2 separate regions of the Homo sapiens genome follow, and region 2 is linked to region 1. Evidence: fine-mapped expression QTL. A gene starts in region 1. The other region holds a variant in brackets. All regions are shown on one strand. Distances are from middle to middle. Region 1 holds the start of MAEA (macrophage erythroblast attacher, E3 ubiquitin ligase). Region 2 overlaps MAEA (macrophage erythroblast attacher, E3 ubiquitin ligase).

Region 1 (14,814 bases):
ACACAGAAGAAACGGGAGTGCTAAGAAACACATACCCCATCATGTACTTCTTACGCATGGGACTTCCTCACATCAGAACTGCGTGTGCTTGCAATCCCAGCTACTCAGGAGGCTGAGACAGGAGAACTGCTTGAACCCAGGAGACAGAGTTTGCAGTGAGCAGAGATTGCACCACTGCACTCCAGCCTTGGCAAAAGTGCGAGACTCTGTCTCAAAAAAACCCCAAATCTTGCATATACAAGATGGTCAACGGTGAGAGACATCCCATCTGCACCTGTTCCCGGCACCCCAGCTGCATAGAGCATGGGTAGTTCCCCACGAACACAGAATTCTGAGGGGTCCATGAGGTGTGGAAGGACAGCAAGGTTTCCAGTGGGTGCAAGTGAGGGTGTCACATCCAGGACGGAGTGAGCAGTGGCCCCAAAGTCCAGAGAGGCCATGCCTTCTGTTTGAACCAGAACATGCTATAAACACAAAAGAAACAGGGGAGTGCCAAGAAACACATACCCCATCATGTACTTCTTACGCATGGGACTTCCTCACGTTAGAACTGCGTGTGCTGAACATGGTGGACAGGAGGAAAGATGAGGCAACCCACAGTTCCTTTTCCCTCCAGACACCCCTTACTTGTCAGTAAAAGTAGAGGGCATTGGTAAAATATGTGCACATCAGAAATGAAATCACAGCTGCATTAGCTTCATGCAGCACTCCATGAAGAAGAACAAAACAGGTCTGTGCAATCGAGCTGGGAAGCACAGGCCTCGTGAGTTTGGTGACGCAGAGTTCGAACTAAAGCACTTACGTTTGCATTTAAAACTGGCGTCAGACAAATGATGGTGAACACTATGATTTGCTTATGTTTGCACTTAAAACTGGCGTTGGACAGGCTGGGTGCGGTGGCTCGCGCCTGTAATCCCAGCACTTTGGGAGGCTGAGGCGGGCGGATCACAAGGTCAGGAGATCAAGACCATCCTGGCTAACACGGGTGAAACCCCCTCTCTACTAAAAATACAAAAATTAGCCGGGCATAGTTGGCGGGCGCCTGTAGTCCCAGCTACTCAGGAGGCTGAGGCAGAAGAATCGCCTGAACCCAGGAGGTGGAGGGTGCAGTGAGCCACGATTGCACCATTGCACTCCAGCCTGGGTGACAGAGCAAGACTCCGTCTCAAAAATAATAATAATAAATAAAAATAAAAATAAAAAATAAAACTAGCGTTAGGTGACGATGAACACTACAATTCGTGTGAATAACTGCTTATTTTTCTTTACTTAGAATGACATTAAATGATGAATTTTAAAAATGCCATGATGTGGGCCAGGCGCGGTGACTCACGCCTGTAATCCCAGCACTTTGGGAGGCTGAGGTGGGTGGATCACACGGTCAAGAGATTGAGACCATCCTGACCAACATGGTGAAACCCCATCTCTACTAAAAACAAAACAAAACAAAAAAACAAAAATTAGCCGGGTGTGGTGGTGGGCGCCTGTAATCCCAGCTACTCGGGAGGCTGAGGCAGGAGAATCACTTGAATCCGGGAGGCAGAGGTTGCCGTGAGCCGAGAGCACGCCACTGCACTCCAGCCTGGCGACAGAGTGAGACTCCAACTCAAAAAATAAATAAATAAGATAAAATAAAATAAAATAAATGCCATGATGCAGAGGCTGCAGTGAGCTGAGATTGTGCCACTGCACTCCAGCCTGGGCGACAGAGCAAGACTCCATCTCAAAAAAAACCCAAAAAAACCCACTATGATGGAAACAGTCAACAGAGGGTGGAGACGACCTGTTGAATGGGAGAAAATATTTGCAAACTATTCATCCAACAGGGGACTAAAATCCAGAGTATACAAGGAACTCAAGCAACAATAAAAAAAAAAATCCCACTAGAAAGTGGCCTGAGGGCACTTTTAGCCCCCAAAATAGAAATGTCTATTTTGGGAATAAACATATCTCAAAAGAAGACAGACAAACAGCCAACAGGTGTATGAAACAATGCTCAGCACCTCTAAGCATCGGGGAAGGGCAAGTCACCACCACGACGAGACGTCATCTTACCCCAGTTACACGGGCTCTTATTAGAGAGACAAAAAATAACAGATGCTGCTGAAGATGCTGAGGAAAGGGAGCTCTCACACACGGTGGGTGGGCGTGTACATTAGTGACGGCCGTACCGGTTAACAGTGAGAACGGTGGGTGGGCGTGTATTTTAGTGACGGCTGTACCGGTTAACAGTGGGAACGGTGGGTGGGCGTGTACATTAGTGATGGCCGTACAGGTTAACAGTGAGAATGGTGGGTGGGCGTGTACATTAGTGATGGCTGTACTGGTTAACTGTGGGAACGGTGGGTGGGTGTGTACAGTAGTGATGGCTGTACTGGTTAACCGTGGGAACAGCGGGTGGGCGTGTACATTAGTGACGGCCGTACCGGTTAACAGAACGGTGGTCGTGTACATTAGTGACGGCTGTACTGGTTAACTGTGGGAATGGTGGGTGGACATGTACAGTAGTGACGGCTGTACCAGTTAACAGAACGGTGGGCATGTACATTAGTGACAGCTGTACCGGTTAACAGTGAGAACAGTGAGTGTGTACATTAGTGACGGCTGTACCGGTTAACCGTGGGAACGGTGGGTGGGTGTGTACAGTAGTGACGGCTAACCGTGGGAATGGGTGGGCGTGTACATTAGTGACAGCTGTACCGGTTAACAGTGAGAACAGTGAGTGTGTACATTAGTGACGGCTGTACTGGTTAACCGTGGGAATGGTGGGTGGGTGTGTACAGTAGTGACGGCTAACCGTGGGAATGGGTGGGCGTGTACATTAGTGACAGCTGTACCGGTTAACAGTGAGAACAGTGAGTGTGTACATTAGTGACGGCTGTACCGGTTAACTGTGGGAACGGTGGGTGGGTGTGTACAGTAGTGATGGCTGTACTGGTTAACCGTGGGAACAGTGGGTGGGCGTGTACATTAGTGACGGTCGTACTGGTTAACAGAACGGTGGGCATGTACATTAGTGACAGCTGTACTGGTTAACTGTGGGAATGGTGGGTGGACATGTACAGTAGTGACGGCTGTACCGGTTAACAGAACGGTGGGCATGTACATTAGTGACAGCTGTACCGGTTAACAGTGAGAACGGTGAGTGTGTACATTAGTGACGGCTGTACCGGTTAACCGTGGGAACGGTGGGTGGGTGTGTACAATAGTGATGGCTGTACTGGTTAACCGTGGGAACGGTGGGTGGGCGTGTACATTAGTGATGGCTGTACCGGTTAACAGTGGGAAGTCCCTCCACCAACAGTGGAATTTCTCAAAAAACTAAAAGTAGAACTACCATCCAGCAATTCCACTACTGGGTATTTATCCAGAGGAAAAGATGCTTGGCCCAACCGAAGCTACCTCAAGCACTCACCTTGGCTGGGCCCCACCTGGGAGCAGGGAGGCCACCGTCCAGCACTGGCAGGTGTCCGGCCTCCTCCTCCAGGGAGCCGGGAGGCCTTTACTGGAGACATTTACAAACAGATGTTGTGAAGATAACAATTGTGTGGCTTGAGTCGATTCCACCTCTACAGCTAACCATAGGAACTAATTATAGTTTGTATTACTAAATACTTTTAAGGGAAAATCAGATGCTATTTTCTTACCAACAAAACAGTCAGTGCTCAAGCCCAGGAGTTTGAGACCAGCCTGGGCAACATGGTGAAACTCTGTCTCTGCAAAAAAACTTTAAAAATTAGCTAGGCATGATGGCATATGCCTGTAGTCCCAGCTACTCAGGAGGCTGAAGTGAGAGGATCGGTTGAGCCCGGGAGGTAGAGCCTGTAGTGAGCTGTGATCGTGCCACTGCACTACAGCCTGAGTGACAGAGCAAGACTCTGTCTCAATAAATAAATAAATAAATAAAAACCAACAGAACAGTGAACTGTGTAAAATCTTGTTACCTGATGTGAGGTACATGTTTCATTCATTCAAGAATTAAGTTTTTCAGCAGGTGTTAACCACCTCCTAAGAGATGTGTGGATCAAAATAACGACAGGGGCAACTCCAGCGCAGAAAACGGATCTGGCTGGGTGAGAGGAAGGGCTGTGTCGTGCAGCTTGGGGCAGAGTCACCCCCTCGAACTTGAGGGGGTTACCTTTAAGTAGCAGAGCCCTGACGTCCGTCCATCAGTGGAGATAAGAAGGGCCCCAGGATGTGGACCCCCTGCAGCATGTGATGTGAGCTGGCTATGACAGTGCGTCCCTGAGCCACAGGTCAGGTCCTCCCACACGGCCATGCAGGAGGCACCCAGCACCATCCGTCTCTGGGCTGCTTTTCTCTGCGTGCTCCTGGCCCACCCACACAAGGGAACCACGTGTGCCCCACAGCTCATCCCTGGCATAGCTGATTAGTCCAGATGGACAGCCAACCCACACTGGGCAAGACTTTGGAGCCTAAGATTTTGGAAGTTTGAACCAAGAGACGCAGAACATGGCAGCTGTTGAATGCTATACTACGACAAAAAGTATATTTGGTCTTGGTCCCTGGTTCCGGTCACCAAGTGTCTAAAACCCTTGCGATTTCCTGAGTGTGGGAGCGTCTTCTTTCTTCATAAGGAACTCCTTCCCACCACACCTGAGTTTATGTTAATGAAGTGACTCTGGGTGGGGCCTCCAGATATCACTAGAAAGACCCGGAGATTGGTTGGCAGGAATTCTCAGCCCCTCTCCCACTCCACCTCCACCTCTGGGGATGAGGGGGGCTGGGGATTGAGATATGAAAATGTGTGAATAATGAGATTCAGGAGAGCCTCCTGGCTGGTGGATGCCCCGAAGTGCTGAGCGGCTGCCGCGCAGAGAAGGCTTGGGAGCTCCTCGCCCCACCATGCCCGATGCACTCCCGTTAGCTATTCCTGAGCTGTGTCCTTCATAATAAGCTGGGAAGCATTAAGTGTTTCCTGAGCTCTGTGAGTCATTCTAGCAAATTATTGAACCTGAGGAAGGGTTTGTGGGAGCCCCAAATGTGTCATCTGCCTTGTGGGTGGCCTGGGCACCCCATGTGCAGCCGTCACCTGGAGTGGGGACAGCCTTGTGGAACGGAGCCCTTGGCCTGTGGGGTCTGTGCTAACTCTGCGAGTGAGTGTGAATGGGGTTGGATTGTAGGATAGCCAGTTGGTGGCAGAGTCTGACAGCTGGACAATTTCAAGTTATATAAACCAAAAATAAGATACTAAGCTCCCCCAACTGACTGAATGGAACCCCCTACCCCCACCTTCAGCCAAGGGGGTTTCAAAGAAACCTGAAAAATCAGTTCAGGACACGATGGCGGCGCATGACTTTTCTTGGTCACTTGTCAGCCAGAGACCCCCAGCCAGCGACACCCTTGCTCAGGCCCAGGTTTGCCACAGGAGATGCCCATTCACTTGGCCCATCATGTCATGCCAGGCCCGCACTCCAGCGTTTGCGGCTGTTCCGACTGTGCACTCAGCCCCCAGTGGGAGGGGGTGTGAGCGAGTGAGTGCGGGGTCCAGCCAACGGTTCCAAGTGTCAGCACAGACGCAGGCTCCATGCAGGGCTTGTGGCTGGACCAGGCATGTTGCAAGCCACTCCCATGGTGGACTCCGGCGTCCAGACAAGGGGAACACGGTGGCGCCCAGGTAGGGGTGCTGTGATCCTGAAGCCCCAGAGGGGGTGTTACAGCATGCTAATTAGCTCTTTTAGTCTGCATCCTGATGGACAGTGGTGCGTCAACAGCTCTGTCAGCCGCTTGCCCCGCATCAGCCCATGGCTCCAGGGCTGGCTCAGTCCCACTGCTGCTTCTGTCACATGGGGTGGCTGCCCTCTGCTGGTGAAGGGCAAAGGGTTATGGAGTTACAGCCTTCTCTGTATTCACATTTGGTGCATCCTGAGCTCTTGTCCCACGTCCAAGAAGAATGATGATACACTGACAATTGAAGGGTGAGGAGGATGGAGAAGAATTTTATTGAGTGACAAAGCAGCTCTCAGTGGAGCAGGGATGTGAGGGTGGTCCCCCACCTGAAGTCGGATGGTTTCTCTCTCCATGTGGCTGGGTTTGGGGCTTTCATGGGCTCAGAGTGCACACTGATTGGTTTGTGAGGATGCAAAAATGGCTAAAACAAAGGCATCACTCAAAGGTGGGGACAACAGTGTAAAAAGCAATTAGGGGCTGGGTGCGGTGGCTCACGCCTGTAATCCTAGCACTTTGGGAGGCTGAGGTGGGTGGATCACAAGGTCAGGAGATTGACACCATCCTGGCTAACACGGTGAAACCCCATCTCTACTAAAAATACAAAAAAAATTAGCTGGGCGTGGTGGCGGGTGCCTGTAGTCCCAGCTACTCGGGAGGCTGAGGCAGGAGAATGGCGTGAACCTGGGAGGCAGAGCTTGCAGTAAGCCGAGATCGTGCCACTGCACTCCAGCCTGGGAGACAGAGCGAGACTCCATCTCAAAAAAAAAAAAAACCAAAAAAACAACCAACCAACAAACAAAAAGCCAATTAGGGAAGGATAGGTATATGTAAAATAGGTGAAGGGTGGGGACCAATCAGAGGAAAGCATGCCAGGCAGGAAGACAGGTTCCCAATCTAGTCCATGGATTTACCTGGGACTTGTAGGTCGGCTTTAAACTGTCTTCGGCTTGAAGGTCGGGTTTCACTGGGTAACTGCTCGGTCTGCCTCCTGCCACTATTAACGTGAAGGGAGAGTTGGACATGCCTCAGTATCCCCTCCTCCCTTTCGAGTTCAGGCACAAAACTTACCAGCATTAACATTAAAACAGAGATCTTAAGACTGACAAAACAGACTCTGTAGCAATAAGATGCCAAATTCCAACTTGACTCTAGTAGAGCATCACATGACAGATAGCTGGCCTTGAAGGAAATCAAAGTGTTTTACCCCAAAATATATTTCTTTGACATATTTTGAAAGGGCCCTGCAAAGCTGTCTCTTGTGGGAGAAATTTACATTCTGTAGGGAATCCCTTGCCCTTCCTTTCCGGGTCTTTTCTGATTCTGAAGAAGTTAATGGTTAACTGAGAGTCTAGCAGCTCTTGTTTTTTTTTTTTTTTTTTTTTTTTTTTAGGAGTCTCGCTGTGTCACCCAGGCTGGAGTGCAGTGGTGTGATCTTGGCTTACTGCAACCTCTGCCTCCCAGGTTCAAGTGATTCTCCTGCCTCAGCCTCCCAAGTACCTGGGACTACAGGTGAGTGCCACCACATCCAGCTAATTTTTGTATTTTTAGTAGAGACAGGGTTTTACCATGTTGGCCAGGATAGTCTTGATCTCTGACCTCGTGATCCGCCCGCCTCGGCCTCCCAAAGTGCTGGGATTACAGGCGTGAGCCACAGCACCCGGCCAAGTCTAGCAGCTTTTTAAGATCTAGATATGAAACATTTGCCATCTATTGCTTCTAATGGTGGCCACCTATGAGGCTTCATCTATGTAATAAGAACGTTGGTCTCCACAACCCCTTTTAACCCAGATGCTCCTTTCTCTCGATTCCAGATCTTTAGATAAGCACTCTTTCAACCAAATGCCAATCAGAAAATCTTTGAATCCACCTGTGAGCTGGAAGCCCCGCTGTGCTTTGTGTTGTCCTGCCTTTTCGGACCAATGTAAATCTCACATGTACTGATTGATGCCTACATCTCCTTAAAACGTATAAAATCAAGCTGTAACCCAACCACCTTGGGCATGTGTTCTGAGGACCTCTTGAGGCTGTGTCACTGGTCATGATCCTTAACCTTGGCAACATAAACTTCTAAACTGATTGAGATCTGTCTCAGACACTTTTTGGTTTACAAAAGGACTAATTCAAATACAGTTTTATCTTCCAACATAAGAAAACCTAGAATGAATGACTCAAAGGTTGTAGAGGGTTAAACAACCTCTCCAACGTGCAAACCTCTGCCTTATAATTCCTAAGTATTTCTGACTGTAGATGGTACTAGGATAGGATCATTTTACCATGGAAATGAAACCCGTGTCCTTTCCTTTGGGTTAATCTTGAATCCCTGGTGAAGTGAAGGCAGTCTCTAAGAGGAGTGCAGTCCATCCAACTGCTGCAGTGCTCCTGTGTACTACTGGGACCATCCCGGAGAGTGGCAGACACGATGCGAACCGTGAAAGGACGCAAAGAGTACAGAGTGCATGCTTCCATCTCTATAGGAAGGTCAGGAACGCTGTTACGGGGAGCAGGGTTAGAATGATGGGGATATAGCCCGGGAAGGGGCAGAGGAGCTTTCTGTGCCACGGGAAATGTCCTAAATCTCAACCAGGACACGGTTAGATAAAAGTGCAAATATGGGTGAAAATTCATTAAAGCTGTATAGTTAAGATTTGTGCACCTCACTGTAAAACTTACTTCAAATGTCTAAAAGACTGGAGTCTGCAGCCACACACTTGAGGAATAACACTTTCCTTAGTCCCAACTCCTGTTTAAGTAAGACAGAGAAAGATTCCACAGTGCGGGTCGGATGTCTTGCGGCTGTAACATGTAGCAGCCTCCAAGCGGAGGTTCTCCCTTCATCGCTGTGTCACCTTAGATGTTTTTCCTTTGTTTAAACACCAAATATTTTAAAAGTTGTTTAGAAATGTGTTATGTGAAACACAAGGTGGTTTAATTGGGACGTCATTTCCTAATTAATAAAATCTAATTTCAGTTTTATTTTGGAAAGGAGGGAGACGGGTGGTGTTTGAAAGGCTGAGAATGTGAAGTGGCTGAAATGAAGGCAGCGCACGACCTGGATGCCAGCGCTGCCCGCCCTGCAAGGAGAGGGCGGAGAGGCCACACGCTTCTCATGCTTCGGGAGTTTCTGTCCATAAATCAGTTTTAGGTACTGGGCCTTTCCTCTTCCGTTGGGAAGTCGGAGGTTCCACATCAGGATTCCAGCAGCTGTAAATCGGTCAAAATAAGGCCAAAGAAAAATAGCTGGCTACAGGCGCATGCGGCCAGGCGTTTTGTTGGCGTTGCCCTTGGTACCGCAGGCACGAGGGACCCACAGGGGACCACCCCGCGGGAGCCCCAAGTAACTGGACGGACGCCAAGTCCCCCAGCCCGCTCGGCCCCAGCTCCACCCGCCCGGGCCGCAGCCCGCACCCCATCGGCCCGCCCCGGGCCAGGAGCATCCCCAGCTCCGGCGTCTGCGGCCTGAACCCGGTAGCGAATTCAAGGTGGAAACCGCCAGCCGGGGCTATCGTTGATTGGCTGAACGAGAGGAAACCCGGCAGTGATTGGTTCGCGCCTTCTTCCGCCTCCGGCCGACTGGGCGGATACGATTGGTGCAGGGGCATCGGCCCGCCCCCATCCTGCTCCGGCCGGCGCGTGGCGTCATTTCCCGGCGTGCAGCGCGCTCGCGCGTCCCCCGCCCGCTAATGTTTTGGCCGCTTCAAGATGGCGGTGCAGGAGTCGGCGGCTCAGTTGTCCATGACCCTGAAGGTCCAGGAGTACCCGACCCTCAAGGTGGGCGCCTGCGCCGCGCAGGCTGAGGGCAGCGAAGGCGTCTCCAGCCAGTGCCCTCGGGCCGCGAGGGGCCGCCCCGGGAGGGCCAGCGGCGAGGGCGGCGGGAGCTGGGCGCGGCCTCGCGGGGCCGTGCGGGCTTCTCAGGGGCGCCCGGTCCGCGCCGGGCAGGTGTGGCGGGGGCGGCGGCTTTGGCCCTGCCAGGCGCCCGACTGTGGCCCCTCTGCTTGAAGAGCTGCGTGAGCCGAGCCAGCGACGACTCTGGCAGCGCTAAGGGTGGCGAATTTGGGGCTGGGGTGGAAGCCGGAGTTTGCGGGGCGTGGGGTCTCTGGCGCCCAGGCAGACGGAGTGCGCGGCGTGCCCAGCCAGTGCCCGGCCGCCCTCCCGGGAGCCCAGGGCTGGGAGGTGCCGGCTGCGCCGGTCGCTAGTTAGGAACTGTAGGGAGAAACCTCACGGCCTGATGGCACCCAGCGACCTTTTTGATGGGCGTCACCAAACCTGAAATACAGCTCTTGCCGTCCGGCTGCCGGTTGCGTGACCTTGGGTGGTCACCTAGCCACGTCGCACTTCTTAGAATGAAATTTGTGCTCCTAGTAGAAGGAGCCGATACTTGTTCTTTACCTAGTTAGTAGAGGATTTGATATGAAGCACCTGGGAAGGAATTCCTTAAAAGATCAAGGTCATAGCTTTCCTAGAGCTGCGGCTGAGCTTCGTGGTTCTGTGTTGCCTTCCTGGAGAGCTGCGTAGTTTCTCTCTCCTCCCAGAGCGCCCTGGTGTTCACGTCCGTCTGAGGACGGACGGTGTGGCGACAGGTGTGGAGGATGCAGTATGGCCAGGTTGCTGTGCGTTCCCCCAGCCCCAGGGCAGTTCAGCGAAGGGCTGAAGAGCACAGGCTGTGAGCCATCCTGCTGGGGTGTGAATCAGGCTTCTCTGTATTCGTCCTTACTGGGAGACATCAGGGCCCGGTTGGTGACTGTTTATTCTTGTCAGGTTTAAGCAGTGGTAGCGCCTGTGTCACCTCAGGGTGAAATGAGTGACCACGTATTGTTTCAAACAGTGCCTAGCATTCATTAAAAGGTCCCTGCTACAGTTAGCGCTGCTGAAGTCAGGCTGTACCCTGCTGTAGCTGGTCTTCATAGGAAAGCAGAAGCAAGCTTCTCCTCCTCTTTATTAACTAGCGGTTTATTTCATATTTTTAAAAAGAAACGGGGTTTCACTGTTGCCTAGGGTGGTTTTGGATTCCAGGACTTAAGCGATCCTCCTGCCTTTTGACCTCCCAAAGCGCTGGGCTGACAGGTGTGAGCCACGCGCCCGCCACACTAATGGTTTCGCAGTGGGGTTTCATGGTGCTTGTGTGTCCAGCACTTCTTTTGATCAAGGAAGGGAGGGCAATGTTGCTGACGTTACCAAAGGTCTAGCCTCTTGCTAGATCCCTCCAAGATGTAGGTGGTTGGTTTTTAATACTCAGTGACATTGGTGGATCTCTGTTGGTTTAGAGATGGAGACCCTGCAGCTGAGAGAAGTCTATACAAGGACATTGTGGTGATATTAGTAGGGAGTCCTAACCACTGACCACTTTGTCTCACGCAGTGCACCTCCAGGCCTGTCATTTCAGCTAACACACAAGAAGGTTTGAAGATCAGAACCGTGGTGGTTTGTCACTTCTGGTACTGGCTGGTGAATGTGGGAAACACTAGATAGGAAAAGTTTCCAGAAATCCTTTCATTGTGTATTGAAGGAACTAGGAAGGGAGATGGAAGGTCTCCGGAAAGGATTCTTCTTCAGGTCTTCTGCTGTTTTGTAATCGTGAATGTAATTTGTATTCCAGAGTGATTGCATAGCTTCTGATTAAAATAGTCATGCAGATAGTCATACAGGTAAAGAAATATTATAGTGTCATAATTTCTCTGTTGACACTTGTGTCACTACTGAGTTAAAACTTTTTTTCATAGAAGTTTTCAGGAGTGATTCCTAGTGGATAATGGAGGTGTTTTGCTGGGAAACTAGGGATCCTTGATTTAGAAGCATTTATTGGTATAGAACTAAACAGAACATGCTGAGCTCACAGCTCAAGAGCTGCACTCTTCAGTTTCCAGGAGGGGCCAGTGCAGATGTCAGAGAAGGGACCGAGGGCTGCAGGACCGGGGTTGTGGAAGGTGGGGGGTGGATGTTCTGCTTCTCTAGTCTGAGAGCAAGTCCTCCTGCAGGGTGGTAGCAGCTGGCATGCTCTGGACTGGATCTTCACCTGGTAATAGTTAAACTGCTTTCCTGCCATGTGAGTCCTCCACAGACTCACAGGGGATTCCTTTCTCTTCAGAGGGCTTGGTAGCCCTAGGTGGGTTTCAGCAGTAACACTTGGGATGTCTGCTTCCTCACAGCGTCAGGGCGGCTGGTGGGGCTCCTGGGTGCCTGGCAGGTACTTATTTTTCTATTTTCCTGGTGAAGTGGGAAGAGAATGGAACAGACGTGAATTGCTGCAGCCAACACGCACTGACCTTGGGCACCTCTGTCGTCATGAGCTTCTATTTCCACCAAAGGGGTGGACCGGCCTGCGAACGTTTGGGCTGGAGGAGCCTTTGTCGGTGGTGGGGGCTGTGCAGTCTAGGATGTCTAGCAGCATCCCTGGTGTCTGCCTGCCAGATGCCAAGAGCATGCCCCCAAAATGTCTTCAGACATTGCTAGATGTGCCCTGGGGGCATGCACACACCCCTGAGAATTGCTGGGCTGGATCCTGCTTTAAGGGACTTGTTTCTTCCTCTTACCAAACGGAGGTGTGGCTCATGAGGACTCAGCCTTGCGTCCTGGCTGTGGCTGTGTCTTTTTGCTGTCAAATGCTGTGAACGCCGTCCGGTGTAGGGTGGTGGGTAATGCCTTGTGGGGGAGGGGAAAGATGAATAACTCACCATCTTTTTTTTTTTTTTTTTTCTTTTTTGAGACGGAGTCTCACTCTGTTGCCCAGGCTGGAGCGCGGTGGCACAATCTCAGCTCACTGCAACCTCTGCCTCCCAGATTCAAGCAATTCTCCTACCTCAGCCTCCCGAGTAGCTGAGATTACAGGCACCCGCCACCATGCCCAGCTAATTTTTTGTATTTTTTAGTAGAGACGTGGTTTCTCCATGTTGTCCAGCTGGTCTTGAACTCCTGACCTCAGGAATTCACCATCTTTCAATTCAACATGCATAGTTCACCATCTTGAATTGGAAGCCCTTGCTTTCATTATTTTGTAAAAGGTTTTTTTTTTTCTGATTATAAAAGTAATTTGATGAGTTGGGTGCGGTGGTGTGCGCCTGTAGTCCCAGCTAATTGGGAGGCTGAGGCGAGAGGATCACTTGAGCCAGGAGATCCAGGCTGTGGTGAACCGAGATTGCACCACTGCCCTCCAGCCTGGGTGACAGAGTGAGACCCTGTCTCAAATAATAAATAAATAAAAGTAATTTGTTTTTTCTTCAAGTTACCCTGCTGCACAGAGAGAACTTCATTAACATTTTGGTGTATTTACTCCTACTATTTCCCTTCAGATAGCCGAAGAAAAATAATAGTTTAGAGAATTTCACATGGGTGTCTGCACAGCCCAGGGCGGGAAGTGGTGTTCATCACCTGGAGACCCTGGTCTGGACCTGGCTCCTCTCTGTGAACCCCACCTGGGCCCACCTCTCCTCTCCTGGAGCCCCAGCAAGGGTTCCCAGCTCCAGTGAGTCCTCTCACACCCAAGGTGGTGATGCTGTCCTCTCCCCAGAGGACAGGCTGAGAAACACCGGGCTTGTGGTTGCATTCTCAGGTGTCTGAATTCTCTACAGGAAGATTTGCATGTTCTGCCTTTGGTTTGATGACAGTCTGGTTGCCCAGGCATGGCCCTGATGCCTCACAGCCTGGGTCTGTGCCTGTGGTAGGGAGTTCGGGTGCCAGCTGTGTGCTGAAGTTGTAACTGCTCCTGCGCCTTTTGTAGTTTTCTTCACTCCATCTTGGCTGGATTTGGGAGGATCATGTGTTCTCGAGTGTGAGAAACACAGGCAACCACGAAGCGTTTGACTTACTGACACACACATTGGGTTGGACCCTGGTGATGCCGTGTCTGAGGAGTCTTAGGCCGGGTCTCCACCTCTTCTGTGGCCGGCTTTTTCGATGTACTTTATCTGCAGTAACGTCACAGCCCTCCAGAATCCGCCCGGTCTCTAGAGCACAGTGGAAATTCCTTCTGCCCAGAAGAGCCATGGTCTGCCCTTTGTGGCTCCCAGCTCCACTCCCCTCGCCTCTCCCACCGTTTGCTGGTGGTTTGGCCCTGGGCTGGCTTCCGCGGCCTCCGCGCTGGCACAGGTCTTCCCTCCCAGGCCTGGGCCTTTCCAGCTGGTTGGGCAAGGCTGAGATAAGGATGTAGACTTGAATTCACTGCTAGCTGGGGGGTTGGTTTTGTTTTTGTTTTTTTAAGTATTATTTTTTTAACACATTTCAAGTCAAGAAAGTGCTTTTTAATGCCTGATTCACCGTAATGGCTGGGCTAGGTTGGAGGCAGTACTGACGTGAGGCCTGGAGCGGCCCTGGGACCTAAGCAAGGCACCGCCGCCGGGCTGCAGAGCAGGGCTGCAGGTGCACTTAGCTTCTCCCATACCCCCCTCCGCAGCAGTGGTCTGAGAGCCTCCATCGGCCAGGTACGGTCAGGCCCTGCACAGTCAGGCCCTGGGCTAGCATGATGGGGAGACAAGTGAGGCCCCTGTCTACGCTCCGGTGGGAGGGAGGCATCAGCACAAGCACACACAGACATCTCAGATCCTTTAAAGACGCTGATGAGGTTGAGGTGATGTTGGACAGTGGCAGGGGACGGGGGTGGGGCCGGGGGCAGGGGCAGGGGCAGGGGCGGGGGTGGGGATGAGCTTCCTCCAGTGAATGCGATATTGTGAGCTGGTTGGCGGAGCTAAGTTTTGGGGTGAGGCTCTGTGGACCGTGTTGAAGTCCTGGCCGGCTCTCACCCCAGTAGGCACACAGGCACACAGCACCATTGGGGTGATGTGGCTGGGGGTGTCCCAGAGCTGTGCAGGGAGGGTCTCACAGTGAGACTGGGTGCTGGGCAGTGACTCGGTCTGTGGGTACAGGGGTCAGCAGAATGGGAAGCAAGCCCAAGGAGACACATTGGCACCAGAATGAAGACAAGGCCGGCCGGTGCCTGTAGCATGTGACTGCCCCGTCTGCAGAGAGGCTGTGCTGCGAGCCCCACCCTCTGGGGGCTTCAGGCCGAGTGGGGATGTCTGGGTGCTGACCCAGGCATCGCAAAGCACACTTCCTGCCGGGGTAACTGCTGATGATTTTTAGGTCTGTTATTTCAGAATCGTTATAGCTAGGGGCCATTATTTTGAAAACCTGAAC
Region 2 (14,814 bases), 44 kb after region 1:
TTGAGATTGGATGCCTGGTGGATCAGTGTGTCTGGTGTTGGATGGAGTTGAGATTGGATGCCTGGTGGATGAGTGTGCCTGGTATTGGATGAAGTTGAGATTGGATGCCTGGTGGATGAGTATGTCTGGTGTTGGATGAAGTTGAGATTGGATGCCTGGTCAATGAGTGTGCCTGGCGTTGGATGAGTTGAGATTGGATGCCTGGTGGATGAGCGTGTCTGGTGTTGGATGAGTTGAGATTGGATGCCTGGTGGATGAGTGTGTCTGGTGTTGGATGAAGTTGAGATTGGTTTGGATGAAGTTGAGATTGGATGCCTGGTGGACGAGTGTGTCTGGTGTTGGATGAAGTTGAGGTTGGATGCCTGGTGGATGAGTGTGTCTGGTGTTGGATGAAGTTGAGATTGGTGTTGGATGAAGTTGAGATTGGATGCCTGGTGGATGACCGTGCCTGGTGTTGGATAAAGTTGAGATTGGATGCTTGGTGGATGAGCGTGCCTGGTGTTGGATGAGTTGAGATTGGATGAGCGTGCCTGGTGTTGGATGAGTTGAGGTTGGATGAGTGTGCCTGGTGTTGGATGAGTTGAGATTGGATGAGCGTGCCTGGTGTTGGATGAGTTGAGATTGGATGCCTGGTGGATGAGTGTGTCTGGTGTTGGATGAAGTTGAGATTGGATGCCTGGTGGATGAGTGTGTCTGGTGTTGGATGAAGTTGAGATTGGATGCCTGGTGGATGAGTGTGTCTGGTGTTGGATAAAGTTGAGATTGGTGTTGGATGATTTGAGATTGGATGCCTGGTGGATGAGCGTGCCTGGTGTTGGATGAGTTGAGATTGGATGAGCGTGCCTGGTGTTGGATGAGTTGAGATTGGATGAGCGTGCCTGGTGTTGGATGAGTTGAGATTGGATGAGCGTGCCTGGTGTTGGATGAAGTCGAGACTGGACGGGGCCTGAATCCATATTTAGATGCTGTCCAGAAATGCGCCCTGAAGACTCCAAATGACACGAAAACATGCCCGGTACGAGATGCGGCCGAGCCAGTTGGGGTACACGGCTGTCTGTGCAGTCTGCTCACATGTGCACGCACGCCAGGGGGTGTGTGGGGAGGCAAGGAGGAGCCAGACTGTGCTCTAACGGGTCCCTGGGACCAGCTGTGAGAACCTAGATGGGAAAAGAAACTTGAGACCCAAGTTTGACCTGGCTGAGAGATGGATTTCACAGGCATGGGTGGGTGAGTGGCCCTGAAGGCCCCTGAAGCAGTGATTTGTTTGCTGCACGTCTGTGCGAAAGCCACACGGAGCCATCAGTGTGGGCGCCTGTCGCAGGGCGGGCACAGCCTTGTTGGCGCTCCACGCCGTATGGGACAGTGTAGACTCGGTGTTTTAGATTTGGGTCTGAATACCTAAGTTTCACGACATAGACACACTTACATATTAGTGGACCAATTGAAAGTAACCTACTAGAGCAAAAGGTGTTATTGAAAAGCAGGTTTGAGGTGTCTATTGTGTGAAGCGGTAACCTAGAGTGGGCCCAGAGTCCTGCTCTTCTAGAGCACCCCCTCGGCAGCTGCGTCCTGCCTTTAGACAGAGCCCCGGCACTCGCCTGCTCTAGACACGGCAGCCATCAGGCAGCCCCTGGGAGGCAGGTGGGGCCCTGGTGGGGAGCCTCTATCTCTTCCCGCTGGCCCTTCCCTTCCTCTCCTGCCAGGCTGGCTCTGAAGGGAGCGGAGTGCTGACCGAAGTCTGCCTGCTGATTAGTGGGGTGGGGACTCGGGACCCTGGGATGACTTTGTGCCTCTCGGCTGATTTGTACCAAGCCTGGCACTCCCCACCCAGAGCCTGTGCCACTGCTGGGGTCAGAGACAGTCCTCCTGCCCCAGCTTGGAGCAAGCCTGTGAGTTCTGCGTCCAGCCTGTTGACCCGTCTGTCTAGGGACACAGGGTGATGAGGGGCTGAGGGTACAGGGCAGAGGCAGCAGGGCAGGGACCTGAGCCCCTCTGAGCCCCTGGAAGGCAGGTGGCCCCCGGGGGTCTGGGCAGCCCAGTCCTCCCCACACCCACGCGGAGCCACTGCTGTGGGTGCTATGCGTGTCGGGGCAGCAAGGCTGGCAGGCGGGGTGGGCTGGAGCACAGGTGGCTCCTCAGAAAGCTCAGTGGGGAAAGCTCTGGGAAGCGGAAGTGATGAGCTTCAACTTAAATGCAGTGGTCCGGGGTGGATTCATCTGCCACGTGGAGTTTCTGTTCATGCCGTCCTGAGAGCCAGGCCATGTGAACCCAGAGTGACACGCGGCCCCAGCCCAAGACTCGCTCCGTGGTGCCCACGCCTATATCCTGTTTCCGGGGTGAAGCCCTGAGAATGTCCTGAAACCACACGGAAGATCTTACGGTTTAGACGGACATGTCACTTCCGTAGAATCCGCGTCTCATCTTGGATGACTGCGGTCAATGTTGCCGCTGCCCCCACCCCAGCCACAAGTCTCGGCCCACGTTGGACTGAGGTTGCTGAGATTTCAGATTGAGGGTTGGGCTTCCCTTAGGTGCACGTGAGAGGCTCATAGGCAGACACATGTGGGACTTGGTCCTGCAGGAGCTTCCCCCACCCCCGCCCCTGCCTCAGGCATAGTGCCTTCAGCCAGCAGCCCCAACTCGGCCTCTCTCCGTCTTCTACACATCCTGGAAGCGCCCTCCCTTCACGCGAGCCGCCCCTTGGCCTCACAGCCACCTAGGACCTCAGTGTCCCCTGGGCCAGGCCTCCATTCCATGTGCCACCCGCCTGGGGCCTCGGCACCGGCCCCGGCTTCTGCCCGCCATGTTCTCGCCAGGTGTCTGTGCGGTCCCCCGTCCATAACCTCGGTGCAGGCGCTCCCCGCCCTACCGACCTGGGTCCTGCCTGCTGCAAGCTTGCTTCTCTGCCTCATGCCCCTGTGAGGCACCAGCCAGCAACCCCACATGTGGTCCCTGTCTCCTCCCCGCCCTGCCGACCTGGGTCCTGCCTGCTCCAAGCTTGCTTCTCTGCCTCATGCCCCTGTGAGGCACCAGCCAGCAGCCCCACATGTGGTCCCTGTCTCCTCCCCACCCGGGGCATCAGCGCCTCGGGACAGGACTTGCCCACGTTCTCCCAGAACAGCCCCGGGTTCAAGCCAGCACCCAGTCTACATTCGGGATAGTTGGGTCCAGAGGCCCGGTGGGAGTGTAGAGGAAGCAGTGGCCTCAGGGCGGGACCCAGGAAGCTGCTTTGTCCTTGCAGAGGGGTTGGTGCCTTTGCTCCAGCAGCTGCACCTGCTGCTCTGCCCTCCCAGCTGTGCTCCTGGAAGCGCCCTGAGCGCCCTGGCCTTCGGGTTGAAATGCTGGGCGGCTGCACGCCCCACCGCAGCTGCAGGAGCAGGGGGCGGGACTCACATTCAGAACCCAGTGTTCCCTGGAAAGTCTGCTGCAGGTTAAAGTGGCAGCTTCAGCCTCAGCCCTGCCTTCCCCGTGCCTGTGAGAGAGGGGTTCAGAGCTTTGGTTGTGGGGTCTGCTGGTGGACATGCGGGTGCGGCACCCGGGCACCTGGGCTCTGTGGGATGTGCTGTCTAAGCCCTCGTCTTGTCTTTGCCCTCAGAGCTGCCTGGAGTTCAGCCTCAGAATCCAGGAGTTCATTGAACTCATCCGGCAGAATAAGAGACTGGACGCTGTGAGGTAGGCATTGCGGACGTGCGTCTCCTCGAGGGAGGGCAGGATGTTCGGCTGCGGCCCCTGCCAGCCCTCCCTGTCGTGGTCTGGGTCCTGGGACGTCCCCTGGGTCGTCCCCTGGGTCTTGAGTCTGACCCCTGCCTGCTCAGGTGGCTGCTTCTCCCACTGTTCCTGAATGGGACTTGGGGAGTGAGGCCTGGAGCCTGGCAGGGCCCCCGCCAAGGTGTGGCCCCAGGTGGGCATCCAGACCCCCGTGGCTGCCAGGGGAACCAGCTTTGAGGTCCCGACCGTCCACGTAAAACACGTGGATCAGGCTCCCGGCACCCCCTTTCCACATTGGAAAGTGCCGCCAGCCTCAGTAGATGGGAGTGTCTCTGACGTGTGGTCCTCAGGTAGCTCCAAGCGTCCTGAGCTTGGGAATGTCCCTCACAGTCATCGGGGAATGTTGACAGCGTGTGATGAGGGCACTTCTGGGTTCTCCGGCCTGTCTCCGACCCAAGGGCGGCGTGCAGTGAGCTGAGGCCAGCGGCGCCCTGGTGGTCAGGCCTGAGAAGGGGATGCTGGCTGTCACTGTGGCTCAGCCCAGTTGGGGTGCACGGCGTCTGCAAAGGAAGAGAGGCTGTCCGCTGGCTTCCCGCTGGCTCCCCAGAGTGGGCATCGTCAGGCAGCAGTGGTCCCTGGCCTGGGCAGTGTCGGCCAGTTCATGCTCACCCCGTCTCGGGGCAGGGCTGCTCCTTGAGTGCTAGGTCGTCTCACTCACTTTCATGGAGGTTCCTGAGCGGCCAAGCCTTGCGGTGACGCTTGAGTTGCTGTGTGGGGTGTGTGGGCCTGGCTGGCCCTCAGCTCCCGGGCGAGTGCCCAGCAGGTGTGTTTGCCAGGAGGGGGCACCTGTCCATGCCCACAGAAACCCGACCGCGACTCCATATCCACCTGCAGTGGGCCGGGTGGCCGAGTGTTCCACAGAAGGCCCATTTGGAGAAGTGGGCGTCTCACGATGAGGTGCTGAGGGTGGTCCCCAAGACGCACGGCAGAACCGCGGCAAGTCCCTGCCCTTGCGTGGACCCTGGAGAGGCCCGGGGTCCTGCTCCGGCTCCTGATGCTGACCTGGGCGCATGGTGGCAGGTCAGGCCTCGTCTTCACGCACGAGGGAGCCAGGCCTGCAACGAGGTCCCTTCTGTGCCTGAGAGGGCTAAAGCGGGGATCTCGGGACCCGGGCCAGTGGAGAGTGGCGTGTGAGCATTGCGGGGACACGGCCAGGGGCCCCCTGTCAAGAGGAGGGGCTCCCGCTCTGCTCTGGCCTCCGTGTGGCCTCGGTGCCTGTGTCGCTGGCCTCTGTCCGGCGGCAGTCTGCTTCCATCCCGAGTCAGCCTCCGTCTCCTTGAGGGCCCCGGCCACTGTCAGCCCTGGAGTCTGAAAACAAAACGTGTCCATCCCGGAGTCCCTCCGTCACAGATGTCTTCATCTAGGTGGCAGCTGGTTCCGCATAGGGTCTGTTGACCTGTTACCCCCACTCCGCATAGGGTCTATTTGCCTGTGTTACCCTGGCTCCGTGTAGGGTCTGTTTACCTGTGTTCCCCCCGCTCCGCGTAGGGTCTCTTTGCCTGTGTTCCCCCCGCTCCGTGTAGGGTCTCTTTGCCTTGTTCCCCCTGCTCTGGGTAGAATCTGCCCTAGAGACTCGCGGGGCCTCCACCTCATAATGTCTGAGCCGAGCTCAGAGCTGTGCCCTCTGCGGCCTCGTCTGTTGCAGGGGAGCAGGCAGGTCCCAGGAAGTGCGTGTCCTTCCTCCCGCAAGCAGACACGTGCTGCCTCGAAGCCTCAGCAGCCAGCCGGGCAGGCATGGCAAACAACACCCCAGTGTCTCGGGGGCAGGCGCAGTGTGAGCTACATCCTCTGCTGGGGCCGTCTTGGGAGTGGTTCTCCAGGTGCCAGGGCCTGGTCAGGGAAGTCCGGCCTCAGCTCAGCGTGGCCCTGGAGCCACCCACAAGGCACACGGGAGCTGGGCTGGGGTGGCAGGTGGGGCATCGGCAGGACGTTTGTGGGGTGAGGGAGTGCGGGTGTTTGGCTGGGAGCCCAGAGGGTGTTGTGTATCACTCACTGAGGCTGGACAAGAGGGAAGGCGGAGAAGCCTGGCCACATGTCTCCTGAGGGCTCCAGGCAGGGCCCTCTCACCTGCTGCCAGGGTCCCAGCCCGCAGGAGCTTCCCGTCCACCTCTGAACTCACGGTCCACATGGCGCTGGAGCGTCGGGCACCATCTACAGGGCTTGAGGCCAGCAGCCTAGCCTCTGGGTCCACTGGGGCAGGCAAGGTGAGTCCTGCTGTCTGTGGAGCCAGCGTGCTGGGCCGGGCAGGGGGCCTCGTTGGCTGGGGTGGCTGCAGCTCCGCCCTGCCTGGGGCATTTGTGGGTTTTTGCGAAATGCAAAAGTATGAGCTGCTAGTGATTAACTTTTAACGCCTTTAATTTTTAGTAAATGAGTAAGTGAATCCCTGACCCCAGGCGGCTGGGACCTGGCCTGTACTTCATGGGCTTTGTGTGAGCAGCTCCGTGCCGTCTGTCGCACACCCACACCTCAGCCTGGCCAGGCACAGTTTAGGAATTTTGTCTTCTGGGTGTTTCTCTCTCTCTCTCTTTCCGTGTGTGTGTGTGTGTGTTTTGAGGTTGAGTTTTGCTCTGTTGCCTGGCACAATCTCAGCTCACCGCAACCTCCGCCTCCCGGGTTCAAGTGATTGTCCTGCCTCAGCCTCTGAGTAGCTGGGATTACAGGCGCCCACCACCACGCCCGGCTAATTTTTGTATTTTTAGTAGAGATGGGGTTTCACCATGTTGGCCAGGCTGGTCTCAAACTCCTGACCTTGTGATCCGCCCACCTTGGCCTCCCAAAGTGCTGGGATTACAGGCGTGAGCCAC[C/T]GTGCCTGGCCCGTGTGTTTATATTTTTAAAGAAAAATGGAAGTTTTTGTGTTTCTTATGTTAGCTGCATTTAGTTTGTTAAAAGTCACGGTTTTGTTTCCCCTGTGTCCTGTGGATGCATACCGTGCTGTTCTCCCCGGACCTGCTCTGAGGGCCCCACATCTCGGCTGCAGTTCTCTGTGTGTTGGGGCTGAATGCTGGCATCAAACGATCTGAAAAGAGTCAGCCGCCACTGTTAGGTTTTCTGTTTCTGTCTTGGGGTCAGGATTTGTGGATCAGGGACCTGGGGTGCGAGGTGAGGCAGCTTGTTAGGCGGATGATGTCTGTCTGGGGTTTGATTGATGGTGAGATAAGACGCGTAAACCAGGTCATGCAAATGAGATCTTGTAGATGTCAACCACGGAGATTAAATTTCCTCTCTTCAGCAGCTCTGGGAGGAGGTGAGATGCCCGTTGGCCGTGTTCTGTGCACGTCTTGGCGTGTGACGAAGGGTGACTTGTCTCCAGAGATGGAATGAGGGGGTTGGGTGGGGCTCCTCCTGGACTCAGACCCACGCCCACCCACACGCTCCAAGGAGGGGGATGCATGGGCACTGGAATCTCGGATGGCCGTCCCCAGCCCCTGCACACGCACCCTGCGGGGTCAGCCGTGTGGACTCACCCCCGACTCCCAGTCCCTGTATGCACCCTGCGGGGTCGGCCGTGTGGATTCACCCCCGACTCCCAGGCCCTGCACAGGCCCTGGGGCGTCAGCCATGTGGACTCCCCAGGCTGGGTCCCAAGCGTGGACGCCCCCCACTCCCTGCTGCCCCGGGCTCTCCTGGTGGTGCTTCCAACACGTGGTCCCCGTGCTATCCATCAAGGGGCTGCTGGGCCACCTCCTACACTAACTCCAGTCTCTGCGAGACACTGCATCTTCTCCAAGGCCACCGTGAGCGCCTGGCACCTCCTCAGCCCTGTGTTCCTTGGTACATGCCTTGTTCTGGACAGCACAGGGCTGACTCACACATGGGACTTGAGGCCCCTGGTTCTGTGCATTGGGGTCGCTTTGGCAGAGGGGCCCTGAGGGCTGAGAACGTGGGGTGCACAGGGGCCCGTGTGAGGGTCAGGACATGGGGGTGCAGGCCCTCAGGACAGCCAGAGGGACAGTGACCCTGTGTGTGGGGGGGGGCATGAGAATGGGGGCCCTGGGGGTGAGCAGGTGCCCGCTGGTCAGCTTGAAAGGGATCTGTTATGTTCTGCTTTGGTTTCTTGGTTGCCCAGCCTTAGACTGGAGTGGGGTTCTGGCCTGGAGTAGGCCTGTGTGCATCCCGCAGAGTTGGCTCAGGAAAGATCGTGGCTGCATGTGGTGTGTGGCACGCTCAGGGCTGAGAGGGCTGGGCCGGATCTGCAGGGAGTCCAGCCTGTGGGCTGAGGGAGGCTGTTCTTCGGAAGGTTGTGCTGGGCGTCACTGCCAAACAGCAAGGACTGCAGTTGAGAAGACTACACGTTCTTGGTCCGCTGGGGCCACGGGGTCCGTGGGGGCGAGCATCTGGGGAGAGTGGGAATCCTCAGGGTTTGGGTTCCTTGTAAACCAGAATCGCTTTGGAGAGCCCTCGGGGGCAGGTGCCATTTGCAGTTCTGGTGTTTTCCGTGGGTTGTCTGTGTGGCTTGGGTGCCCTGGTCCCCTGGAGGAAGGAGTGTCTGGTAGCTGCTCCTCCAGCCTCTGGTGAGCCGCACCTCCCGCCATCCCAGCCCCACCCAGCAGGTCGGCTTGGAGTGAGGCGATTACTTTGTACCTAGACTCTGACATAAAAGCTGTTAGCTCAGATTTTTCAACTTAAAAATGCAGGCCGGGTGCAGCGGCTCATGCCTATAATCCCAGCACTTTGGGAGGCCGGGGCAGGAAGATGGCTTGAGCCCAGGAGTTGGAGACCAGCCTGGGCAACACAGCGAGAATCTGTCTCTAACAAGATGTTTTTTACATTAGCTAGGTGTGGTGCTGCACATCTGCGGTCTCAGCTTCTCGGGAAGATCGCCTGAGCCTGAGAGTTCGAGGCTACAGTGAGCTGTGACTGTGCCACTGCACTGCAGCCTGGGTGACAGAGTGAAACCCTGTCTCTAAAAGTTAAAATTAAAACGCAAACTTAAATGTGCCAAAATGTTGTTTTTTAGACATGCAAGAAAGCACTTCAGCCAAGCAGAAGGGAGCCAGCTGGACGAGGTGCGCCAGGCCATGGGCATGCTGGCCTTCCCGCCCGACACGCACATCTCCCCGTACAAGGTAGGGCGTGCGTCCCTGGGGTCGGTGTCATGCTGGGGTGGGGATCCAGGGTGTGTCTCTGGTCTGTAGCTGCTTCCACACGTGGGGCGGGACGTGAGGGCCCCATCCCAGCCACACAGCCTGTCCAGCCTGCCAAGACAAGCTTTTCTTGTTTGACTCCCATTTTGCTCATAAGAAATTTGAATCAGGGCTGTGTGTGGTGGCTCACCCCTGGAATCCCAGCACTTTGGGAGGCTGAGGTGGGAGGACTGCTTGAGCCCAGGGGTTTGAGAACAGCCTGGGGAACATAGTGAGACCCCACCTCTACAAAAAAAATTTTTTTGAAAATTAGCTGGGCATAGTAGCACCTGCCTATAGTCCAGCTACCCAGGAGGCTGAGGTGGGAGGATCACTTGAGCCCATAAGGTTGAGGCTGCAGTGAGCCAAGATTGTGCCACTGCACTCCAGCTGGGGTGACAGAGCAGGACCTTGTCTCCAAAAAAAAAAAAAGCAGTTGAGAAAGGTTCAGGAAGCCTTTCAGCCTGGAGCGTTCAGCCGGGGCCCAGCTTCCTTGCCTGTCCCCCTGGTTCTCCTTTCTCTACAGCCCCTGAGTCAGGAGTTAGGCTGCACCGTCTTCCGTGGTTCTTTCTCTTGCTGACGCTTTGTATTTTATCTGTAAATATTGGAGCCTCCGACTCTCCGCGGTCACTGGGGTAGGGTTGGGGGTTCTGCCATCACTAACCAGGCACCCTGTGCTCAGACCTGGCCCCAACCCAGCAGCTGGCTGCTCCTGGGTGAGTGGCTCCACTCTGCACCCGTGCCCACCCCTGCACCCACCCCATGCCCACCGTGTGCTCACCCCCTTGCCCACCCCCATGCCCGTGCTCACCTCTGCACCCACCCCATGCCCACCCCCATGCCCACCTGTGCTCACCCCCATGCCCACTCCCGTGCCCATGTGCCCACCCCTGCACCCACCCCATGCCCACCGTGTGCTCACCCCCCTGCCCACCCCCATGCCCGTGCTCACCTCTGCACCCACCCCATGCCCACCCCCATGCCCACCTGTGCTCACCCCCATGCCCACTCCCGTGCCCATGTGCCCACCCCTGCACCCACCCCCATGCCCGTGTGCTCACCCCTGCACCCATCCCATGCCTACCGTGCTCACCCCCATGCCCACCCCATGCCCACCATGTGCTCACCCCTGCACCCACCCCCATGCCCGTGTGCTCACCCCTGCACCCATCCCATGCCTACCGTGCTCACCCCCATGCCCACCCCATGCCCACCATGTGCTCACCCCTGCATCCACCCCCATGCCCACCCCTGTGCTCATCACACTGGGAACAGTTTCAGTTCCTGGAAAAGGGGGAAGCAGATAAAACCTCCTGGAGTTGACAGTTTGTTCTCTGAGCCTGGCACCAGTCTCTGTCAGAGGCCGGGGTGTTTCCCGGCAGCCCCCACCTGCCACCCTGTAGGGACTGCAAAGCCCTGGGCAGTCCCAGACCTGCTGCCTTCTGAAAGCTGCTGGAAGCTCAGCCTGAATTCTCCTGGTTCTCAGGCGTTTGGGGCATCTCATAATAAATCATCATTAGGTCACGAGGATCTTCAGGGGTGGGGTCTGAGCTTCCCAGACTGTGAGTTGGCACCTTGTTTCTCTCGCTTGCTCTGGAGAGGATTTTGTTAGAAATGCAGGAAAGGCTGACCCATACAGGGGGCTGAGACTTCGGGCCTAGGCCGGGTGGAGCATGCACCTCTCACCGGACGCAGCCCTGCAGTGTGGTAAAGAGGGAGGCAGGCAGTGCCAGCCCCAAGGCTCATCTGTTGCCAGATTCAGGGGGCACAACCGTGTCTCGTGGCAGGAAAATGGGCCCCGTTGCCATGGGTCAGGCAAGAAACAGAAGGAAGCATTTTGTTCAGAGAATGGCAGAAGCCACCAGAAGCCCAGAGGCAACCAGTCCTGGGGAGTGAGGATGCCAGGAGCTGTTCTTCTCAGTGAGGACCTTCTGGACTGTGGGCTTCCTCCCTTGTAGACTTTGATTTTTAGACAAAAATGAGATTTAAAACAGCCTTTAAAAATGTTGGAGTTAAGTGTGGTGTTTACCCTAAACTGAGACTGAGAAGCTTACAGAGACTGATGGGTGACGTCCCCTGATGACCACCTCCCCTCCCTCCAGGTGTGGCCGTCTCCCCCCAAGCTAGAGACTGAGCGGCCTTTCTGGGTTGATGTGAAGGTTTTTCTCTCCTGTGCTCACACACGCTCTCTCTCTTAAGTCTAAACCTGAGGTTATTTAGGGACAGACATTCATCAGGTTTAATTTTCTGTTCTGTGATGCTTTAACCTAACATGGACCGGTTGTTTTCCATTTCATACATGATTTCTCTGAAGTAAGAGTTTTTACACCTAATGCTCTGAGGTGCACTCTGCACTGAGCTGTCCTTCCAGCTGTGTGAGTCTATTTTTTGTCACAGTGCACAGGTTGCACACATTCCAGATCATTCAAGTTGATTCACAAGTGAGTGTAGCAGAGTTAAGTCAGCACCAGCCCTGTGGCATGTTGAAATCAGAGTTAAGTCAGCACTGGCCCCACAGTGTGTTGAAATCAGAGTTAAGTCAGCACTGGCCCCACAGTGTGTTGAAATCACAGAGTTAAGTCAGCACTGGCCCCATGGCGTGTTGAAACCACAGAGTTAAGTCAGCACTGGCCCCACAGTGTGTTGAAATCACAGAGTTAAGTCAGCACTGGCCCCATGGCGTGTTGAAACCACAGAGTTAAGTCAGCTCTGGCCCCCACAGTGTGTTGAAATCACAGAGTTAAGTCAGCACTGGCCCCATGGCGTGTTGAAACCACAGAGTTAAGTCAGCACTGGCCCCACAGTGTGTTGAAATCACAGAGTTAAGTCAACACCTGCCCTGCAGTGTGTTGAAATCACAGAGTTAAGTCAGCACCTGCCCTGCAGTGTGTTGAAATCACAGAGTTAAGTCAGCACCTGCCCTGCAGTGTGTTGAAATCAGAGTTAAGTCAGCACCTGCCCTGCAGTGTGTTGAAATCACAGAGTTAAGTCAGCACCTGCCCTGCAGTGTGTTGAAATCACAGAGTTAAGTCAGCACCTGCCCTGCAGTGTGTTGAAATCAGAGTTAAGTCAGCACCTGCCCTGCAGTGTGTTGAAATCACAGAGTTAAGTCAGCACCTGCCCTGCAGTGTGTTGAAATCACAGAGTTAAGTCAGCACCTGCCCTGCAGTGTGTTGAAATCAGAGTTAAGTCAGCACTCATCCCGCAGCATGTTGAAATCAGGGAGTTAGATCAGCACTGGCCTTGCAGCATGTTGAAATCAGAGAGTTCCAGCACTCGTCCCGCAGAGTGTTGAAATCAGAGTTAAGTCAGCCCTTGTCCTGCAGGTGTTGAAATCAGAGCGTTAAGTCAGCACTGGCCTCACAGCGTGTTGAAATCAGAGACTTAAGTCAGAACTGGCCCCACAGTATTTTGAAATCAGAGAAGTCAGCACTCCCCCGACAGTGTGTTGAAATCAGAGTTAAGTCAGCACTCACCCCACAGCATGTTGAAATCGGAGTTAAGTCAGCACTCACCCCACAGCATGTTAAAATCAGAGTTAAGTCAGCACTCATCCCACAGTGTGTTGAAATCAGAGTTAAGTCAGCACTTGTCCCGCAGCATGTTGAAATCAGAGTTAAGTTCATACTGGCCTCGCAGTGTGTTGAAATCAGAGAGTTAAGTCAGCACTGACCCTGTAGCATGTTGAAATCAGAGTTAAGTCAGCACTCATCCCGCAGCATGTTGAAATCATAGTTAAGTCAGCACTCATCCCACTGTGTGTATCAGTCAACACTTGAGGGAGTTATGCTTTGTGCTGACCCTTAGTGCAAAGTGTGTGGGTCACTGGGGGATGGCTGTGGGCCGATGGCACCTGCTTCACCATGGTCCACGTTTTTAAGCTGTCCCAGGAGCTTCCCTGGGAGCATCCCCAGGACCCTCTGCTCTCTGTCTTCCAGGACCTTCTGGACCCTGCACGGTGGCGGATGCTGATCCAGCAGTTCCGGTACGACAACTACCGACTACACCAGCTGGGAAACAATTCTGTGTTCACCCTCACCCTGCAGGCTGGCCTCTCAGCCATCAAGACACCGTATCCTACCTCCCGTGCGCAGTGCGGTTTGGCCTGGGGTTGGCATCTTTGGTCATATTTTAACACGCTGACCCTGCACCTTGCCACTCTTGTCCTCCCACCACAGACAGCCCCGAGCTCCCGTGTGCTGCACTTGCGTGGTGTCTGGATGGTCGGGGTGGGGCCGTGTTGAGGGGCCTCGGATGCGTCGTGCAGCCTTCACTCTGGGAAGTGGCGCGCTTCCTCTCTCATCATCTCAGAGGCCGCCATGGGCATTGATCTAAAAGCCCGATTTTGATGTGTTCTGGCAGCCGGCAGATTACCATTCAGAATAGTTTTCCCGTGTGATTACCAAGAACCTTGCCTGTGACTGACTCTGTCCCGCCTGTGACTGACTCTGTCCCACCTGTGACCGACTCTGTCTGCCTGTGACTCTGTCCCTGCCTGTGACTGACTCCATCCTGCCTGTGACTCTGTCCCACCTGCGACTCACTGAGTTCCTGCCTGTGACTCACTCGGCTCCCGCCTGCAACGGACTTGGTCCCTGCCTGCGACTCACTGTGGCCCTGCCTGTGACTGAGTCTGTCCCGTTTGTGACTGATTCCTTCCTGTGACTGACTCTGTCCCACCTGCAACTGACTTCTTCCTGCCTGTGACAGACTCTGCCCCTGCCTGCGACTGAGTCTGTCCCTTCCTGCAACTGAGTCCATCCCGCCTGTGACTCTGTCCTCGCCTGTGACTGACTCTGCCCCTGCCCTGTGACTGTCTCACCTGTGACTGACTCCGTCCTGCCTGTGACTCAGCCTCTTACTGACTCTACCCCTGCCTGTGACTGACTCTGCCCTCTCCTGTGACTGACTCTGTCCCCACCTGTGACTGACTCTGTCCCCACCTGTGACTGACTGTCCTCCTGCAACTGACTCTGTCCCCGCCTATGAATGTCTTTCATGTGACCTGCCTCAGGCCCAGAGGGCAGTGAGTGTTTCGCGATTGCTGCTGGTACCTGGCTGTGCCGGGGTATGAATGAGACTCAGGCCCCCTCCCTTGTCCCCTCTTTGTGGAACTCTGGGCGAGAGGGCTGGCGTGCTTGCCCACTGCCTGTTCCTAGGTGCCAGCAGAACGTCCCTGCTGGGTGGCTCTTGTCCTGCCTGGAGAGGTTGCGTGGCCGGGGAGAGGGCGGCGGGCGACGGAGCCACTCTGTGCCTGTGGTCCTGGTGCTGGAGGCCGGGGTGAGAAGGCGCAGGCTTCTTGTCTCCACCGAGGCCTCAGTGGGGCTGTTTAGCTGTCGAGTGCAGCACTTCCTGTGCCTCGAAAGACAGCCCCGTGTAGTCAGCATGGCGCCCACATAGCCAGAAGGGCACGCAGCCCAGGGCAGAGTGGCCACAGGGGGCTGGGCTCACCCCGGCTGCCCTGAGTGGCCCCCAACCCTTCCTTGACCCGATGCTCAGACAGTGCTACAAGGAGGACGGCAGCTCCAAGAGCCCTGACTGCCCTGTGTGCAGCCGCTCCCTGAACAAGCTGGCGCAGCCCCTGCCCATGGCCCACTGTGCCAACTCCCGCCTGGTCTGCAAGATTTCTGGCGACGTGATGAACGAGAACAATCCGCCCATGATGCTGCCCAACGGCTACGTCTACGGCTACAATGTGAGGGGGGCAGGGCAGGGGGGCCAGGCTGGCACGCATCGCCATCGGGACAGGGCTGTGTGGGACGGGCAGGGCAGGGGGGCCAGGCTGGCACGCATCGCCATCGGGACAGGGCTGTGTGGGACGGGCAGGGCGGGGGGCCAGGCTGGCACGCGTCGCCATCGGGACAGGGCTGTGTGGGGCGGGCAGGGCAGCGGGGCCAGGCTGGCACACGTCGCCATTGGGACA

What was found.
Region 2: its variant is fine-mapped to the expression of MAEA in whole blood (TOPMed, PIP above 0.99).

Annotation. Positions count from the first base shown.
Region 1 is chr4:1,280,524-1,295,337 of GRCh38, forward strand. It overlaps MAEA (macrophage erythroblast attacher, E3 ubiquitin ligase), which reads left to right and starts at 9,368. Exons shown (of 9, transcript NM_001017405.3): 1 at 9,368-9,459. The coding sequence starts at 9,391. It overlaps LOC105374347 (a long non-coding RNA gene), which reads right to left and starts at 9,048. Exons shown (of 3, transcript XR_925046.3): 1 at 8,362-9,048; 2 at 6,603-6,685; 3 at 5,841-5,925. LOC105374346 (a long non-coding RNA gene) reads left to right here and starts at 7,080. Exons shown (of 2, transcript XR_925043.3): 1 at 7,080-7,200; 2 at 7,503-7,771. RefSeq lists silencers at 8,889-9,298, 9,399-9,678, 10,767-10,949 and an enhancer at 14,295-14,814.
Region 2 is chr4:1,324,032-1,338,845 of GRCh38, forward strand. It overlaps MAEA (macrophage erythroblast attacher, E3 ubiquitin ligase), which reads left to right. Exons shown (of 9, transcript NM_001017405.3): 5 at 3,596-3,672; 6 at 8,726-8,834; 7 at 12,830-12,963; 8 at 14,391-14,586. Among named protein-coding and RNA genes, the nearest start is that of UVSSA, 16 kb to the right of the region's middle. RefSeq lists enhancers at 1-668, 1,843-3,042. The variant C/T (reference allele first, on the strand shown) is at 6,573.